2 separate regions of the Homo sapiens genome follow, and region 2 is linked to region 1. The links come from fine-mapping of genetic effects on gene expression. A gene starts in region 1. The other region holds a variant in brackets. All regions are shown on one strand. Distances are from middle to middle. Region 1 holds the start of SLC25A32 (solute carrier family 25 member 32). Region 2 overlaps BAALC (BAALC binder of MAP3K1 and KLF4).

The links. PIP is the estimated chance that this variant, and not a neighbour inherited with it, causes the effect. A credible set is the group of variants that fine-mapping cannot tell apart.
Region 2: its variant is the best candidate, but not a certain one, in a credible set for the expression of SLC25A32 in whole blood (TOPMed, PIP 0.69).

The regions. Positions count from the first base shown.
Region 1 is chr8:103,409,867-103,418,853 of GRCh38, forward strand. SLC25A32 (solute carrier family 25 member 32) reads right to left here and starts at 5,241. Exons shown (of 7, transcript NM_030780.5): 1 at 4,918-5,241. The coding sequence starts at 5,071. It overlaps DCAF13 (DDB1 and CUL4 associated factor 13), which reads left to right and starts at 5,520. Exons shown (of 11, transcript NM_015420.7): 1 at 5,520-5,650. The coding sequence starts at 5,581. RefSeq lists enhancers at 4,907-5,528, 5,262-5,601, 8,742-8,987.
Region 2 is chr8:103,225,104-103,234,090 of GRCh38, forward strand. It overlaps BAALC (BAALC binder of MAP3K1 and KLF4), which reads left to right. Exons shown (of 3, transcript NM_024812.3): 3 at 2,886-5,202. The coding sequence ends at 2,996. Among named protein-coding and RNA genes, the nearest start is that of BAALC-AS1, 57 kb to the left of the region's middle. The variant A/G (reference allele first, on the strand shown) is at 5,339.

The DNA of each region.
Region 1 (8,987 bases):
GAGCTTCAGCATCCTCACTTATAAAATGGGGATAAATCATGTACCTCACCGGGTTTTTTGAGGTTTATATAAGACAACAAGTTTAAAGGCAGGCAGCAGAATGACAGGCTCTTGAGAAAGGTTTTCCTGCATAGTTTATAAACTTTCTGATGCTTCCCCTGGATTCTGTGTGTCTCATTCTTCTGTATAGATCCCTTTTTCTAAGAACTTTCCATTTTCCTCTCAATAATAAACTCACAATACCATTTCTCTCTTGAGGTAAAAAGCAAAACCAACCATAAAAACACTACCTGTTCTTTTCATAGGTATAAACCAATGCTGAACTATAATCTCCCTAACATAAAATTAAAATTGTTATATCGATAAAATACAGTAAATTTTTTTGGTCTAAATCAGGGGTCCCCAACTCCGGGTACCAATCCATGGCCTGTTAGGAATTGGGTCACACAGCAGCAGGTGACCTAGGTGGGCGGAGTACGAGCGAAGCTTCATCTGTACTTACAGCTGCTCCCCATTGCTTGCATTACTGCCTGAACTCTGCCTCCTGTCCGATCAGTGGTGGCATTGGGTTCTTACAGAATCTCGAACCCTATTGTGAACTGCACATGCAAGGGATCTAGGCTGCACACTCCTTATGAGAATTTATTGCCTGATGATCTGAGGTGAAACAGTTTCATCCTGAAATCATCCATACCTCCTCCACCCCCGTTCATGGAAAAATTGTCTTCCATGAAATCAGTCCCTGGTGCCAAAAAGGTTAGGGACCACTGGCTTAAATGACCTCATGATCATTTTAAAAACATTTGCCACTAATGAATTAGTATGTAGATCTAAGTACCTATCAAATAACTTACAATGGCCTATCACAGCACTAAAAAAATGCCAATGGACACAAGCTGAAGATAAAAAGTTTGGTGTACAGAAAGGAGCCAAGACAGGACACTAATTTTAAATTCATTTTCAAAGAAAGACAATATAATGACTTTAAAAAAATTATCATCTAGCACTATCACCCTTACACAACCTGTTTCATTTGCTGGATGTTAGTTTTACCCCTCCTTTCCTCTGTGACAAGTTTGTCTCTCTTAATAAAATTAATCTCCCCCCTACCTGTGCTCTATATTGGTGTTTTTAAAATTGCAGATGAATCAAGAAACCAATTGAACAGATTGCCAGTATCTTTTCTTTAAAACCAGACTGGAATTGAAAACAAATATAAATGACATTACAAGTAGTTAAGGATAAGTAATGTTTCATGAAACTTGTGTTTCAGTAATGTTTGTGTGTGGATAGCAAAGGTAAAATTTATTTCCTACTAAGCGTTCTGGTCAAAAATGCTTGTTCTAGATCCTGCTTCTTCAGATAACCCACCTTAGTTAGATACGTTACTCTTTATCCTCCTGCCTCCATTTCCCAATTTCTTCCTTGATTTCAGTTCTTTCCCATTAGTATTTAAATAGACTTAAGTCTCTCCTAAGTATTTCCTCTTTGATCTCAGTGCCCCCTTATCAGGTAAGTGTCTGCAATGAGAAAACCAGCCCCTCCCTGGCCCCCGAGACAATCTCAGCAGGGACTCTCTCACCCCTGCTGCAATCTGGTTTGAGCTTTACCAATTACTGCAAGCGCTCTAATTAAGAACCTTCAAAGGCACTTTGGAGTTCTCTCTTTCTTAGGAACCCCTTAATACACCTGATATTGTGTAAATCCCTCTCTTCTGGCTCATTTAACACCACATTTTCTTGAATGTCCTCTTGCTTCTTTGCCAATAAATTTCCTTGGCCCCCTTTTCTCTGCCCATCCTTAAATGCTGATTTATAGGCACAATTTCCACCAAATAGGGGTGGTGTCTCAACCATTAAGTGGCTTCAACTGCCATCCCTGTGCTTCTAGTCCTGGTCTCTTATTCCTAACATCCTGCCCTACTAAGGGTTGTGGTTCTACTGCCAGTTTCCATTTTCACATGGCATAAAAGATAATGTCAATCTGGCAGCTTAACTTTCTGGAATCATTCTTTATTTCCATCTCTAGCATTTTAATTTACCCTTTAGCTATACCAAACTACCCACTCATGGTTTCAAACTAACAGCATATGTTACGGAAACAGACTTTCTGAGCTTGAATCCCAGTTCTAGCAATTACTTTGCAACCCTGAGTAAGTCACTTGATTGCTCTGTGCCTGAGTTTTTCTGTAAGATAGGAAAAAATAATAGAACCTAACTCTAAAAATTATAAAGGATTAAATCAGTTAGTACATATAAAGCTCTTAGAATTATGCCTGACATATTGCAAGCACTCTGTAAGTACTAGTTTATTTATGCTACTGGGTCTTGCGATACCACATACTTACACAACTTTACTCGGCACTACTGTTACTGAATTTTACGTTTTGGTTCCTTAATATTTTGGATGTAGTCATAGTCTCTACATTCTTCACAAAAGCTCACACACAACTTTAACTTGCAGATTAGGCTTTTGGGTATTTGAGAAAATTACTATTTTTACATCTCATTCTTTGTTGGGGCTCTCTCATCATTCTTGAGGGTTTAAAATTACAGAGTAAAGTTAGAAGGGGCCTGAATAATCATCCAATCCAATCTTTCCACCTAATACAAGAATATCTTCTAACTTCTGTCATCCAACTACTATCTGAACCACTTCTGATCATCATCAATTTCATTTCTGAGCACTGCCACATTGCCAAACCAAAATCTGCTTCCTTGTAATTTCCACTCAACCTGTGTCTGACCTTAGGATCAACCCACAATAAGGCAGCCCCCTTTCCCACATGTAAGTTCTCTAAATATCTTGAGGTTTTTTTCTCTCCCGAGCTAAACTAGTTCCTCCAGTCATTTTTCATATGAAGTAATTTCTAATCTTTCTACCACTCTGGACACCTCTGAGTTCCAATTTATACTTGAACTCACAGAAAAATTCCAGGTTTGGTTTAATAGCACATGCATTCAGAATTAACCCCCACACCCTGTCATCATTAGATTTTAACTTTATTAAATGAGTTTAATTACATGGAAGCATAAAAATTATAGTATGTTACTCAGCACTGATGTTGATAATCAATAAATTTTTATTTCGTTATTCATCTTCTTAAGTTTTCCTCCTATCACCATTTCACAGCTACACTGTGAGCTTTATTATTACAAAGTCCTGCTTCCACTCCTGGATCTTTAATTTAGGCCTCCAATCCAAACTCAATCCTTTTATCTGTCACCTCAGCCCCACTAGTCTCCTAATACTCTTCCCAATTCATCAAGACTATTAATCTTCTCAGGTACCAAGAATTCCCTTTCCTCAGGAATGATATGCTTCAAAGCACTGTCTAAACTCATCAGGCCAACCACACTATTCTTCAATGATCACCTCGACTATCACCTCTTCTGCTCCTAGATAAAATGCTACTGAAGACAGACAGCAAGTCATACAGGCCTGCACCTGCAGGCAAGTCTAAAATTCTTCCAATGTTCAAACCATTGTATAACAGGTACTTATAGAGGTAATACGGTGAGGGGTTAAGTGCCAGAGGGTTCCAGAGTTAGATTACCTGGGTTTAAATCCCAGATCCATCTTTACAAACTTGTGACTTGGGCAAGTTAGTCAACTTCTGTTATCCTCATCTGTATAGCAGATATCATAAACTCACAGGATTGTTCCTGTGAATAGATTTACAGGATAATAAATGAGATAATGCATCTAAAGCATAGTTCACTGCCTTGCTCCTAGTAAATACTCGATAAAGATTACTTGTCAATAACATAATTATTTGTGCATGCATCATAAAACTTCATGACATTATATGTCTTTGTGGTGTTTTTTCTAGAGATAATACTCCATAATTTTCGATGATTTTCCTTCATAGAACGGGTTCTTGCTTCCTCTCCAGCTGTCAAAATATTAGCCCTTCTATGGGAAACCCCAAGCCCCAATCTTCCACTGAACCTTAAAGATACACATGGCCATCAGTAATGTAGAATTTTCTTAACGGTTTACCTGTATTTATATTTTGTTTTTGTATTTCTTGATTTTATGTTGTCTAGAATTACCTTTTATATGACTAAGTCTAACGCCTACAATTAAATTCTAAGTTCCCTGAAGGCAAGAACTTTATTAGATACTTCTGTAGCCCATACAGCAGTCTACAAATATTAAGAGAATATAAATCAAGTGAACTGAATTGCCTAATGCTAAAATAAACAACTTCTGTAGATTTAATTCTCAAGGCTGAACTTAACTTGTAATAACTTTATTTGGAAACTATTTTCTGCAATTTCAGTTATCAAAGATCATCTTTGAAACTCTTTCCAGACTTTAGTGTTGAGTTTAACTTCTAAAATGCTTTGTTAATTTCAACATACTCAATTCATCTAATACACTTAAAATAGTATTTCGATTCTAGCTATTTTTTCACAGAAACTTGTACCATTCTACAAATGCCAAAAAACAAACATTCAAGAGAATTCTATTCTAAATCTACTCCCAACCATTCGCTGAAGATTACGCCCTATCCCAATACTAGTCGAGCTGCCAAACCACGTGGGTATGCTAAGATTTCAAAGTTCCTCCAAGAGTGAATGATTTGCACGTGTGAGGACTAAACCTTAAAATGTGACAATCCCTTCTTTATTTTACAAATCAGGCTTTGAATCCCATCTTCTCTGCCAATGAGGATGTTTTTTCTCAGACTTCTCTACATACATGCCCCCTCTCTTAGTCTTGAGGAGCGGGGAAGATCGCAGGCCGACCCCTCCACCAAGCACCATTTCCTCAAATCTAGTTCAGGTTAGCCAACGCGGACAGCAACGCTCCCTTCAACGCTCCTCCTCCCCCTAGAACGGAAAAGACGGAGGAGATCCAGTTCGGGCTGACAGTGAGAGGATGCAGCCCGGTGTCTGGGCGGGCTCTTACCGGCGAAGCGGATCTTCACGAGGTCGAGCGGATGCAGCGCAAGGTTGGATAAGACGCCGCCGCTCACGCCCGCTATCAGGTTCTCATACCGGACGTGGCGGAATACCGTGCTCCACGCCGACGACCCGGACGCCGACTGGCCCTGGCCCGTCATAGGCTCGGGGCCCGTCGACACCACGGCGCCCAGGGCCGCGGAGGTGGGACGCGATGCAGTGGCCGCCACCGTGGCGACGGTCGCCCCTTGTGAGCGCAACCCCACCTCCGGGACCAACGAGAGGACTCTTATGCCCAAGGCGCGTGAGCGAAGCCGGAGACTCTAGTACTGAGGGGGCAAGAACGGGGCACAGACACTACGTCACGCCGGCGGAAAGCGCGATGGAGGGGAGGTCCCAGCCTCTCCCGAGTCTCCGCCCTGCCTCGCCCACAAATGCTCCAGCCCACGGACGCGGAAGCGACTGCACAGCTAAAGAACCGCCCCTTGCTAACGTTTGCCGGCAAAACTACGGAGCGGCGCAGGATCCAGTTGAGCCAGCAGGCCGCCGCTCCGCGAGTCACGTGACTGGAAGTAGTCTGGGAAAAGCGGAAGTCGCCTGTGGGAGGAGGTGGCGGTGGGCGGAACTCCTAGCGGACACCTCGTGGAGTCCGGCCGGAAGAGCAACCGAGATGAAGGTGAAGATGCTGAGCCGGAATCCGGACAATTATGTCCGCGAAACCAAGTTGGACTTACAGAGAGGTAAGATAAGTTGGTAGGGAGAAAGGGACGGTTTCCGCAAGTCGTTGGGTCTAGCCTCGGCTTTCGCGGAGTAAAGCCGGGGGAGGCTGGCACTCTGGTCTGGTTCTTTCTCAGTTACCTTTCGCTAAGGCAAACTTTGTGCTTACGGAGTCGCTGCGGAACTGGATGGATAGCAAGTAAAGTCTGTTCAAGTCCTTTTTCTAAGAATTTCCTCTAGTGGTGAGTGGGAAACAGTTGTCTATAGTGGAGAAAAATTCCAGCTGCTGCTCTGGGATTGTCTTCAGGTTCCTATTACTGAAAAGTGGACTTGAATGAGCCAAACTCGTGGGTTGAAGGGCTGAGAGTTAAACAGGCTTTTAAAACCTTCCTACTGCTCTTCTTGCCGCTTTACTACTTCACATTAGTTGTGGATGTTGGAAGAGACAAAGATGAATTTAAAAGCATCAGTTTTCTCTTACCATCCCTTAAGAAGTTTGATGAAAGAATGGTTAAATGAAATTAATTTATCCTTCCTGGTCTGTTCCCCCGTTAACATGCTAACCACTTATAAATTGTACTTTGTGATACCTAAATGACAAGGGACCAACCATGCGTAAGCAGATTGTTCTAAATAAAGAGAATAACAGGAGCAAAGGTCTTCAGGCAGGAATGAACCTAAGGCATAGAAAGAAGGGCTGTGTCATTAGTTTGAATGAGGAGTAAGCGAGATGAGATGAGGCGAAAACAGTATTTCACTATTTTGGTTGAGTAGGAGATATTATCAACATGTGTGTGAGCATTGCTAATAAGTCTCTGCTCAAAAGATGTTTACAGTTTGTCACAAGGCAGTAATGTTTCTAAAATATAAATTAGATTTGTCACTTGGATTTGGCATCGTTCCCAGTCCTTGAATCTCTGGTCCCACCTTCCTTGCCACTTTAGTCAGTCACTACGTTTCCCACAAGTGGTTTAGTATTCACCCTTGCAAATCTCAGTGCGTTTCAGTCATCTTTTTTAAGGCCTCCTGTGGCACACACCCTTACCCAGTTTAGCCGCTTTCTCTGGAAGACTTTCACCGAACAGTAATCTGTTCCTGCTTACCTCCTGCATGAGCCCCGCCCCCTTCAGCACCCGTCTTCTGTGATTCTATCACTTCTTCACAGTGTTTATCACATTGTCTCATGATTATTATTTTGGTTAATAGTCTTTCCCATCAGACTTAGCCTCCAAAAAGGGGAAGAATCATGTTCGTGTATGCACTGTTAAGACAGCACCTAGCACATAGTTGCTTTAATAAATGTCAGTTTCTCCATCTATAAAGATTCATTTTTGCCTACATGAAGAGATTTAGAAACAAAATGATCTATCTTGTTGGGGTTTTTAAACTTCTGTTGAAATTATTAAAATGCTAATTTTAGTTGTAGGAACAGCTGCTGACATCAGAGTAGATAGAAATTTTCTAGACTTCAAAAATAATCTTTGCAAAACTGATGGATGAGACTGAAAATTAAATATATTAAATAAACGTGGCCAATTATGGACATTATCATTTTGGGTATGCTTTCTTTGTGAAGTACAGGCATTCTGCACTTTGCACAGTACCATATTAACTGAACCAGTCCCACTCTTTAAGAGGTTTACAGTGATTGAAATCACATCTGTTAACCACGAAACTTTGCAAAGTGGGGAATTGATTCCAGTATGCAACCCGTCCCGTTAATACAGTACAGTGCGAAAGTGAGTACTGCTTGAATTTTTTTTATAATAGTAGCCATTAAAACCAAACATTGAATTAAGCTGAAATTAGAACCTTTAAATCTATCACAGTGTTGAATCAAGATTTTTCTTAAAAAAAAAGATCTTTGGCTGGGCGTGGTGGCTTATGCCTGTAATCCCAGCACTTTGGGAGGCCGAGACGGGCGGATCACGAGGTCAGGAGATTGAGACCATCCTGGCTAACACAGTGAAATCCCGTCTCTACTAAAAATACAAAAAAATTAGCCCAGCGTGGTGCTGGGTGCCTGTAGTCACAGCTACTCAGGAGGCTGAGGCGGGAGAATGGTGTGAACCCAGGAGGCAGAGCTTGCAGTGAGCCGAGATTGCGTCACTGCACTCCAGCCTGGGTGACAGAGGGAGACTCCGTCTCAAAAAAAAAAAAAAAAAAAGAACATCTTTAATTACATGCTCTCATTAACATACACATATGTTGAGAAGGGATCTGCTCAAAAACTCTGTTATTAATGGGGCACACAGAAAGTTTGAAGACTACTATATAGGGAGCCTTTGGAAGTTTTAAGCATGGGAGTGACATGTAAAAAGCTGTTTTAAGATGACATCTGATAGGCTGGGCGCAGTGGCTCACGCCTGTAATCCCAGCACTTTGGGAGGCCGAGGCGGGAAGATCACGAGGTCAGGAGATCGAGACTATCCTGGCTAACATGGTGAAACCCCATCTCTACTAAAAATACAAAAAAATAAATAAATTAGCCGGGCATGGTGGCGGGTGCCTGTAGTCCCAGCTACTCGGGAGGCTGAGGCAGGAGAATGGTGTGAACCCGGGAGGTGGAGCTTGCAGTGAGCCGAGATTGCGCCACTGCACTCCAGCCTGGGCAACAGAGCAAGACTCCGTCTCAAAAAAAAAAGAAAAAAAAAGACATCTGATAATAGTGTAAATTGCCGCCAAATCAAGTAGGGATGATATTAAAGTAGCCCAAGTATAAGATAATGAAGACCCAAACTGCCTGGGAATGCAGTGGCTCACATTCATAAACCCAACACTTTGGGCGGCAAAGGTGGGAGGATCTCTTGAGCCCAGGAGTTCGAGAGTAGCCTGGGCATCATAAGGAGACCCCCGTCTCTACAAAAAATTTAAAGATTAATGGGGCATGGTGGTGCATGCCTCAGGTCCAAGCTACTTGGGAGGCTGAGGTGAGAGGCTAAGGTGGGAGGATCACTTAAGCCCTGGAGGTTGAGGCTGCAGTAGGCTATAGTCATATCACTGCATTCCAGCTTGGGTGACAGAATGATACCGCATCTCAAAACAAAAACAAAAACAAAACACAAAAAACTAGAAATAGAGAGTTGAAAGATGAGTAAGTGTTGCAAAGAGATGATGAGTAGGACTTTGAGTTTTGGTAGTAGGGAATATGGAAGATGGAATACATAAGAATGACCTAGGCTAGAGCTTTGTTGAATGTTAGATATAACACCATTACCAGGGAGTCAGAAAGAAACAGCAGGATGAAGTCATGGGGTAAGAAGATGCATTTACTTTTTACTCACTGAGTTTTTTTAGACATACGAGCTTAAAATTACTTTCTAAGCATAATTATATATATATATATATATATATATATAT
Region 2 (8,987 bases), 180 kb before region 1:
CCCTAGTGCCAGTTCAGGCTCAGAAAACCTGAGTGTAAGACTGAGCCCTAAATAGTATTGCCTACTGGTTGTTAAAGCAAGGGTACACTGACAAGTGTGGTGCATTCATTCATTCATTCATTCACTTATTCAAACAAAGTTAAACTGAGAGCTTATGATGTCTCAGAACTGTGCTAGGCACTGGGAACACACAGAGGAAAGCAATGACATCCTATCTCATGAAATAAATAGATAAGACTAAAATTATGTAGAGTCAAAATTATCCTTAAATGTTCCTCAAATCACCCATAAAGTATGATCTTTGGTTAGGTTCCCTAAACGCAGAACCTGAGATAAGGATGTAAGTAATTGAAAGGATGCAAGTAATTCTCATGCAAGTAATTGAAAAAGTACACTCAGGTGAAACCTGCATGGTAATGGAGGAAGCAGGGCAGGGCAGGGGATCAGATTCAGCAAATGTGTGAGTTCAGTCAGCGGAACAGCTGTAGTCTAGCCTCAGCCAGATCCCACAAGGAGACCTGGGGCAAGCAAAGCACCATGGATTTGTACCCCCAAGAGGCTAAGGGGCAGCCTTTTTTATCCTAACAATCAGGCATGGGATATGGGCCTATCCAGGATATGGGCCTCTTTGGCATTCCTGGAGGAGGTGGCTCCAATCAGATGAGGGCAATTCTCAAAAGAAGGGTGTGCTGTGAGCAGTTAGCAGCCAACAGTCACAGCAGCTGGGAGGGATGCTCTGGCAGAGTAAAGGGGATCTAGAGAGGGGTGTCGCCATCAGCTACACAAGGACACAGGATTTATGTGACATATTAGAAACATACATATCGTTTGCTAATAAATACAACAGAACAATGGATTTTTCTCCATCAGTGCAATAGTTCACCATTTATTTGGATGCACTACAGAGGAAGTAGTTTGTGTTCAGGGGCCATGTTGTTTGAAAAATGTGCATCTCTCAACACCCAGCACAAGGAGGTGCTCATGCCTGGAGGGGTGTTCCCACAGGATCTGAGGCAGACTATGTTCCCAGGAGGCAGACCAAGATGTCATTATACAGGATGTTAGGAAGTGCCCTTGAGGCCAACGCCTGTGGAAAGGGATGATGGAAGCAGGAGTGGGTTAAGGGAGAAGTCCAGCCACAATGCAAGCTGACAACAGCTTCAGCGACCCCTGCTCCATGCAGCTAAATGGCTTGTGGGAGCTGACCTGTTTAGGGCCCAAATGGTCAGACCTTTATGCCCTTCCATTTACCTGCACATTGGCCCATCTTGGGAAGGGCACAAACTTGAGTGAGGTGGCTCTCTGCAGCTGATGCTGTCCCCAGCTGGAGGCTACTTGCTGACTGTTCTCCCTGCAGCGAGGCAGCAGGTCATTTCTGGAATGGGGCTGGGCAGCAAATAACTGTGTCCATCCACTAGTGGAGGTGACTCACAAGCCCACTCGTGTTCACCCCCAGCACACAATCACAAGAATAGGCACAACACTGCCCCTCACCAATGCTGTTTTCTCTTTTAGGGGATGGAGAGTCAGGGACTGGACACATATACTTAAAGAACCTACAATTTAATTAATGCTTTAATGTTTAATATTAATTCAGAACTTTTGTCATTGGTTTATCCTTAGTTAGAAGTAGATAGTCTATCCTACTTTTTAAGCTTATTTTTTTCCCATTTTCATTTAGTGACAGTCATTGTACTAAGTACCTTACATGCATTACCTTATTTAATCCATATAAAAACCTTATGAGAGAGATAATATTATTATTCCCCATTTTACAGATAAGGGTTAGAGAGTTGGAAAAACTTGCCCATAGTGAAATCATATAGCCAGTATTTGAACCAAAGTCTCTCTGACTCCAAAGCTCAAACACTTAACCACTCTACTAAAGCCAACTATGAAAACTTTCACATTACCCTTTGATGGACCATAGCTCATTCACTCAACAGTGTTTTAATAAACATGCCCTATTCCAGGCTCTGTGCTGTGTTGGTATTAAAGATTCAACAAAGAAACCTCTGATAGGAAGCATATGTGCATGCGTTCTTGTGGGTCATTCTTCCTGACTGTGTGTGTGCGTGTATGTGTGTGTGTGTATTTGTGATAATCTCAAGAGATTAATGCAAATTGTGAGGACCTTCGTATATTTCTGTGAAAGGAAAATAAAAATCTCAGGACCCCAAACTCACTATGGAAAGGGAAAGTTAAGCTTAGGAGCTAAGCCACCCAAAACTGCCTTCCATTTTGTTCCTAAACAGATAACTGCAAAGATAGAAGGCCACATACCTTCCAGGGGGACTCCCTCACAATTTCTTACAAAGAAATTCCTTGTGGGCCCTAAGATCTTTACCCTAAAACAGAGTTCTGTTGGATTTCACCCCATGTAAATTAACAGCTTATCTTCACAGGTATGGGACAAAGACAGGACTAGGAGTCATCCCTCTGCTCACTTGAGACAAATGCATATTTTACTCATTAACTATTCTATGTTTCTTTTATCTTATGTAAAAAATGCAAGTTCATTGAGCATGAGACAAATGCATATTTGACTGTTCCTCTATCCCCTCCTTTCACACATAAAATGTGGATTCAGTGAATGCTCATCAAAGCCTCAAAAGAATGTAACTGTTTGCCCCTATTCTCTACCCTCCCTTTTCCTTTCCTCTTTCCCTTACTGCCCACTCTTTCCCCCTTAAATAGTGAAGTCCTCAAACCCTCTTTGGGAATTTTTGCACAGATCACAAATGTTCCTGTGATTTATGTTCCTTTTTCCCAGGCACATTCTCAACTATGGCACAATAAACCTCTAAATTGATTGAGACTTGCCTCGGTCATTTTCTTTGGTTTACATTTCCTAGTAACTCAATTCACTGTTTTCAACTTAACAGGCTAAAAGAGATGCTAAGAGAATGCCTGCAAAAGAAGTCACCATTAATGTAACAGATAGCATCCAACAGATGGACAGAAGTCGAAGAATCACAAAGAACTGTGTCAACTAGCAGAGAGTCCAAGCAGAAGGGCAGATGGACTTCTTCAGTGTCCTTCACGGCACTGGATCCCATCAAAGAACCTTGAAGAAGTGGCTGCCCCTTGCTGGACCTGAATTCTACTGAGTCCCTGGCAAGACTGTCTTACCTGGCAGCAAACTGCTGCCTGATTTGTTGGGACCTTCTGAGCCTTCTACTTATCATGTAAATGTATTGGCACAGTGCTTACATATGTTAATAAACTGCAAATGTGCAGTTCAGTTTGTCTCTTTGCAACTCCTGTAATACGGTCTGGTGTAAAAGTAGTGAGTTAAAGCTACAGGTCAGTTTATGAAACAGAAAAGTAGGAATGCATTTTCTGGGTGAAAGAGTCACACCTTAGTGCTATAACTCTCCTGCCCATGATAGTGTATTCTGTTTCAGGCAAGCTTATTCTTTCCTTCTTTCATTTTAAATATTGTCATTACAAATCTTACCAGGTTCACTTAAAAGCTGGCTTTCATCCAACTCTAAACCCACATATTGAAAAAATCAAGGTACAGGAAAACTCCTTGTTATCCTTGTTTCCTTAGCTTGGTATGAGACAGATCGGATCCAGTTTCCCATGCACCAACCCACTGCCCATGGCATGTCTTTGGGAGGTGTCTGTGAAGCAGTCATACCTGCTCCTCATCTGCCTGGAAAGTCCTCCTATTCCAGTGTCCATGTTGGCCTCCAGTCCTTAATGTCACCATGCTTGTGGCCAATGCATCCAAATAAGGATACCCCTCAGGGCTCAGCTAGACATTGCAATTTTGCATAGCTTTCCAGTTCCCTTTGCTTGTCTTCTTGACTGTCTTCCCTCTCTATCGGGGTCACTTGCAATTGTTAATCAAAGATTGAACACTGCGTAGGAGAGGGAGATGATCCAGAGACATGTGGCAGCAGGCATGGCTTCCCCTTGGCCTCTCTGTACACTGCCCCAGGACTGTCATTTTGGCATCTGCAAAGGAATCACTTTAGAAAGCCAGCACCTGGTTGATGTGTATTCATACTGACATTAGATTGATGTGCACTGCATTAGAAATGAGGTAGCTGACACAGAAAAAGGATGTTTTGATAGGAATAATTTTCTAGTATGTCTTGAAACATGTTCATCTGGAAGTATTTTCCTCCAAAGTAATGTAGCATGATTTTTCAAGGATTGTTAACATGCCTGGGATTGGGAAAGATAGGACTAAAGTTGTGCCAAACTATATCAATAAATTCCATGTTTAGCAGAAATAGGCAGCCTATTGGTGTTATGTTTATGTAACATAGTCCAGAGAACTGACATGCAGGTCAAAAGTCAGATACGCAACCTCCTTATCTGCTAACTCTGTTATTCTTCAAACACAAGTGGGTAGTGTCATTTTTCCTTCCTTCCTTCCATTGGCAGATTGTATATTTATTCACAAAACATTAAATGTCCATCCTGTGCCAGGTACTATGCAGATGTTGAGGGATTTGGGGTCTGGTTAGTCGTGACTATCTATCCTGAATCTAACAGTGACTTCATAACTAGGAGACTGAATTAGACCCTTAAGGTATAGTGTGTGTTGCAAATCACTCTGCAATGGAAACTTTTATATTCAGGGTAGGTTTGTGTCTTAAACTAGGTGTTCTAATCAATGTACAAGACTTTACCATACACGCAACTATAGTTTTTCTAAACCTTCATCATTTTGTGATTCTTTGAGAAAGGGCTTTTAGGAACTTTATGTTCTAAAAAATGTTTTTAACAATAATAAGATAAAAGAAAAACCTGTGATTCATATGTCCCCACTGGCATTACTCAGCAGGAGCCCCCAGCTGCCAAAGGTTGGCAGTGATCCTGCAAGTTCAAGGGCTCTTTCTCCCTGGGGATGTGCTTTGTGGCTTCTCTTTACAGCTTTGTTTCTGCATCAGTTCACTGCTGCATGTTGTTTGGAATTTATCACCTTAAGAAAGTGTCTCTGTTTTATATAGAAACACTTTCTCACTTACAGGGGAGAAGGAAATGCAGGGCACATGATCTGGCCCTCCCCAGAACAATCTGGATTTCACGGAGACAGCAACCAGAAGTTAAACCATGTGACTAAAAATGCATCTGGCTACTTTTTCATGTATGTATGAGACAGAAACTAATCCTTACTATCCTATTAGGATACCACTTTTCATTGCAAAGTTTGTGTCAATAAAGTCATTAATTTTAAACATATATGGGCAGTTACAGAGAATCTTTACTGAAACCTTAAATTTGTATGCAGAACTATTTAGACTAGTTTTTAAAAATGAAGACCTTTTACATAAGTGAACCCTGTGAATCCTCCAAAAAGCCTTGTGAAGTAGGTAAG[A/G]AGAATGCTATTAGCACCAATTTACACTTATGGAAATATTTATAGTCCAGTCAACTAGTAACTTTTGGTGCAGAAATTCAAGTGGGGGAAGCCTGTCTGCAAATTTAGTTCTTTTCCTGCCACCACATGGTGCCACCATGGCAAGAAGGTCTGGTGTAACTGAGAGATGAGGCCATTTAGAGGGGAATTGTCATGGAGCCTCAGGCTGGGCTGAGTCCAAGTCTAAAAGGATAATTTGGGTGATTGGAGGGGGCTAGAGAGAGAGGATTGAAGAGGGCTGGTAGTGAAGACAGTGATTGGAAAGGGCCAGTGAGTTCTCAGGGAATTTGGTTCTGGTTCAGGCTCACTTATCCCTCCAGAGAGAGTGACCTTGACCTGGTGTGAGAGGTCAGAACACTGAGAGGGACTTTATAATTCAGAGAAAATAGAAATTGCACCCCTTGGGATATCTGCTTAGACCTAAAGGTAAGGGAAGCCAGGGACCTCCCACGTTGCTGCCAATGTCCTGAGCACAGCTTGGATGTACAGGTAAGAGACAGTAGCCCCTCACCCTTTATTCATGGCCCACTTTCACAGTGCTTTCCACAACCCACCCCCACCTCCCAGGGTACCTGAACACACCCCCGTTTGCACTGCCTGTCTGAGTCCTGCTAACCTGCATCTGTTTTTGATCCTCACCAGCCAGACTTGCGGGCTGCCCCATGTGACACTGAAGTGCATCCCATTCACATTTACTGCTCTAAGCACGGTTCACAACACTGGAAGCTCCTCTGCTGAAATCAGGTGACAGAGCTGCTGTGTTTAGCCGTCATGGTGTCAAAACTTACTTAGGAATTTCACATAAATAGCCAGCTCTGGCATAGACTCCTACTTTAGAACTCCAGTATCCATCCTTCTCTTCTTTCTTAGTTGAGCACATGTCCACTTAGAACAAACATTACACTTTCCAGCCTCCCTTGCAGCTAGAAGTTGCAGCATGATTAAGTTCTAGATAATGAAATGAAATAAAAGTGAGGCATAGAAGCTTCCAGGAAGTCAGGCTCTTTCTTTCCCCTTTTGCTTCCTGGTGTGCAGAATGAGGAGGTAATGGCTGGAGTTACCTCAGTCCATTGGGCCATAAAGCAACTTCGAGAATGAAAGCCATGCCAAGATGAGCAACAAGTTAGAAGAAGCATGGGTCCCTAATTCCATAGAGTTTCATGAGTCTTGGACTATATACCACAAACCTCTTTTTGTGGGAAAGAAATATACTTTACTTCATTTAAGTTGCTGTTTCAAATGATTACTCACAGCCAAAACTGATTCTTTTTCTTTTCAAGTCTGAGAAATTGAACAAAACTAATTCTAATTTGTATGCATATACTTCCATCTTTCAAAAAATTGGAAGATCGCTCACCCTTGGGGCCTTGGCTGCTTGGCCACATCTGGCTGGAGCTGATGAGTCTGCATTAGCTGGAGCTGGGAGGGTCTCCAGATTGTGATGGTCGCTACCACTCATTGTGGCTTACACATGGTAACCTCCCCATTTCTGTTACCTGCCAGAACCCAGAGACATTTGAGCTTGTAACTCCTGCTCCACTGTATGTTCCCAAACATGTTGTTTTTACACTCTTTTCAGGAGTCATTGAGATATACAAGGTCCTTTTCTCCTGTTTCACCAGTCTGGGAAGTGGCCAATCTCAGGAGAATTTTCTGAGCAAATTATGAATATTACCTAATATTTAAAATCATGCATTCACTTGCTCATTTATTTAATCCAAATGTATTTACTGAGACTCTTCAATGTGCCAGAAGTTGGGATGTGGTGAGAGATACAACATATCTGGTCCCTACCCTCACGGAGATGGCAAAATAGTAGAGGAAACAGAAAATAACGACATAAAGAAATAAGTCATTACAGTAACTTAAGATGGGGATAAATGCTGAAAAGAATGTTAATAGGAGAATGAGCTGGACGGAAGCAGGAAGGGAGCAGGAGACCATTTAGGAGGCTACAGCTATAGTCCTGGGAAGAGATGTCAGTGCAAGGAATAGGGTAATGGTTGCAAAGACGGATGAAAATAGGTGGATGCTGAGAACATTTTGGAAATGGAAACATTGGGACTTGCTGATGGACTGGGTGTAGAAAGTGAAGTCAAGGGAGAAATCAGGGTGATTCCTAAGTTTTTTGGTTTGAGCAACAGGGTTTTTGGCAAGATAGGGGAAAACAGGGTGGGAAAAGTTTTTTTTGGGGAGGCAGTGAAAATCAAAAAGAACCATTTTGGACCCATTAAGTATGAAATAACCAAGGGGAGGTGTCCAGTAGGGAATTGGATGTACGAGTCTAAAGTTCAAGGAATTGGTCAAGGGTAGAGCTGTGCATTTGGGGGTCATCAACACATGGAAGATATTTAATGGCACAGGAGTTAGTTCACCTGATGAGAAGCTACTGAGGAAAGTCTAGGGCTGTGCCGGGAGACACCCCAACATTCAGGGAGTTGGTGGTGGAGGAAGAGTCAGCAGAGGGTACTGAGAAGTGCTGAGGCAGTTAGGAAGAAAACAGGGAGCTCACTTACTGAAGCCAACACTAAAAAAAAATGTTTCATGAAGGGAGAAATGGTCAGTCACGGTGAATGCTGCCAAAAGGTTAAATCACGTGAGAACAGAGATGTGACTCCAACTAGCACCATGAAGGTGACTGGTGATCTTAACAAGAACAATTCCAGCAGAGAGGTGGTCATAGAGCCAGACTACAGAGGATGATGACGGGAGGGGTGGTGAGGAAGTGGAGGGAATGAAAAAAACTGTCTTTTGAGAAATGTTGCTATGAAACAAAGCAAAAAGAGGCCAGCAATTGGAGAAAGAGACGGGTCAAGAAGAAGTTGTAAAACGTGGGACATACTAGAGTATGTTTCTCAACAATTGCAAGGATTCCTTAGGGTGAGGTTGAAGCTGGAAGGGTAGGGGCATTATCCACGGAGTAAAAAAGTCCTTGAGGAAGTGAGAAGAGAACAGATCCAGGGCGCAGGTAACCACATTGAAATTTAAAACCTCTGTATGATAAACATTCACATAAAGATGAATAATAGTCTATTAGAAGATATCTACAGCCCATGTATCAAAGAGTTAGTATAGTGATATACATTAAGAAAAATGAGAATTTCATAAGCAAAAGACAAATGACCAAGAGAAAATAACATGAACAGGCAGGAGGAAAGTTGAATGGCCAAGAAAAATACAAAAAATCCTCAGTGTCATCAGTAATTAGGCAAATTTGGGTTAAAAAAAGAGATGCCACTTTTTAACCTATCTGATTAGCAAAGTTTTTAAAATGTGATAATATCAGTGTTGGGAAGGGTGTGGGAAAGAAGTAATGTCAGACACTGCTGGTTGAAATAGAATTAGTGATACTATGTTGGATGGTGTAGGGCAGACAAAGCTTTACCTCTACCTTCATAGGAACCCCAGCAGGGCCTGAGAATTAGATTGACACAAAACAGACTAGCAGGAGAGGAACATACAGATTTACTTAATTTTAAGTTTTATGTGAGTTGAGAGACTTTATAAAGAAACGACGGCCCAAAGAAGTTGCAAAATCTCAATGCTTTCCTACTATGTTGGACAAAGTGAGGCAATTGTGAAAAAGTAATTAAAATATACAGGAAAGCTA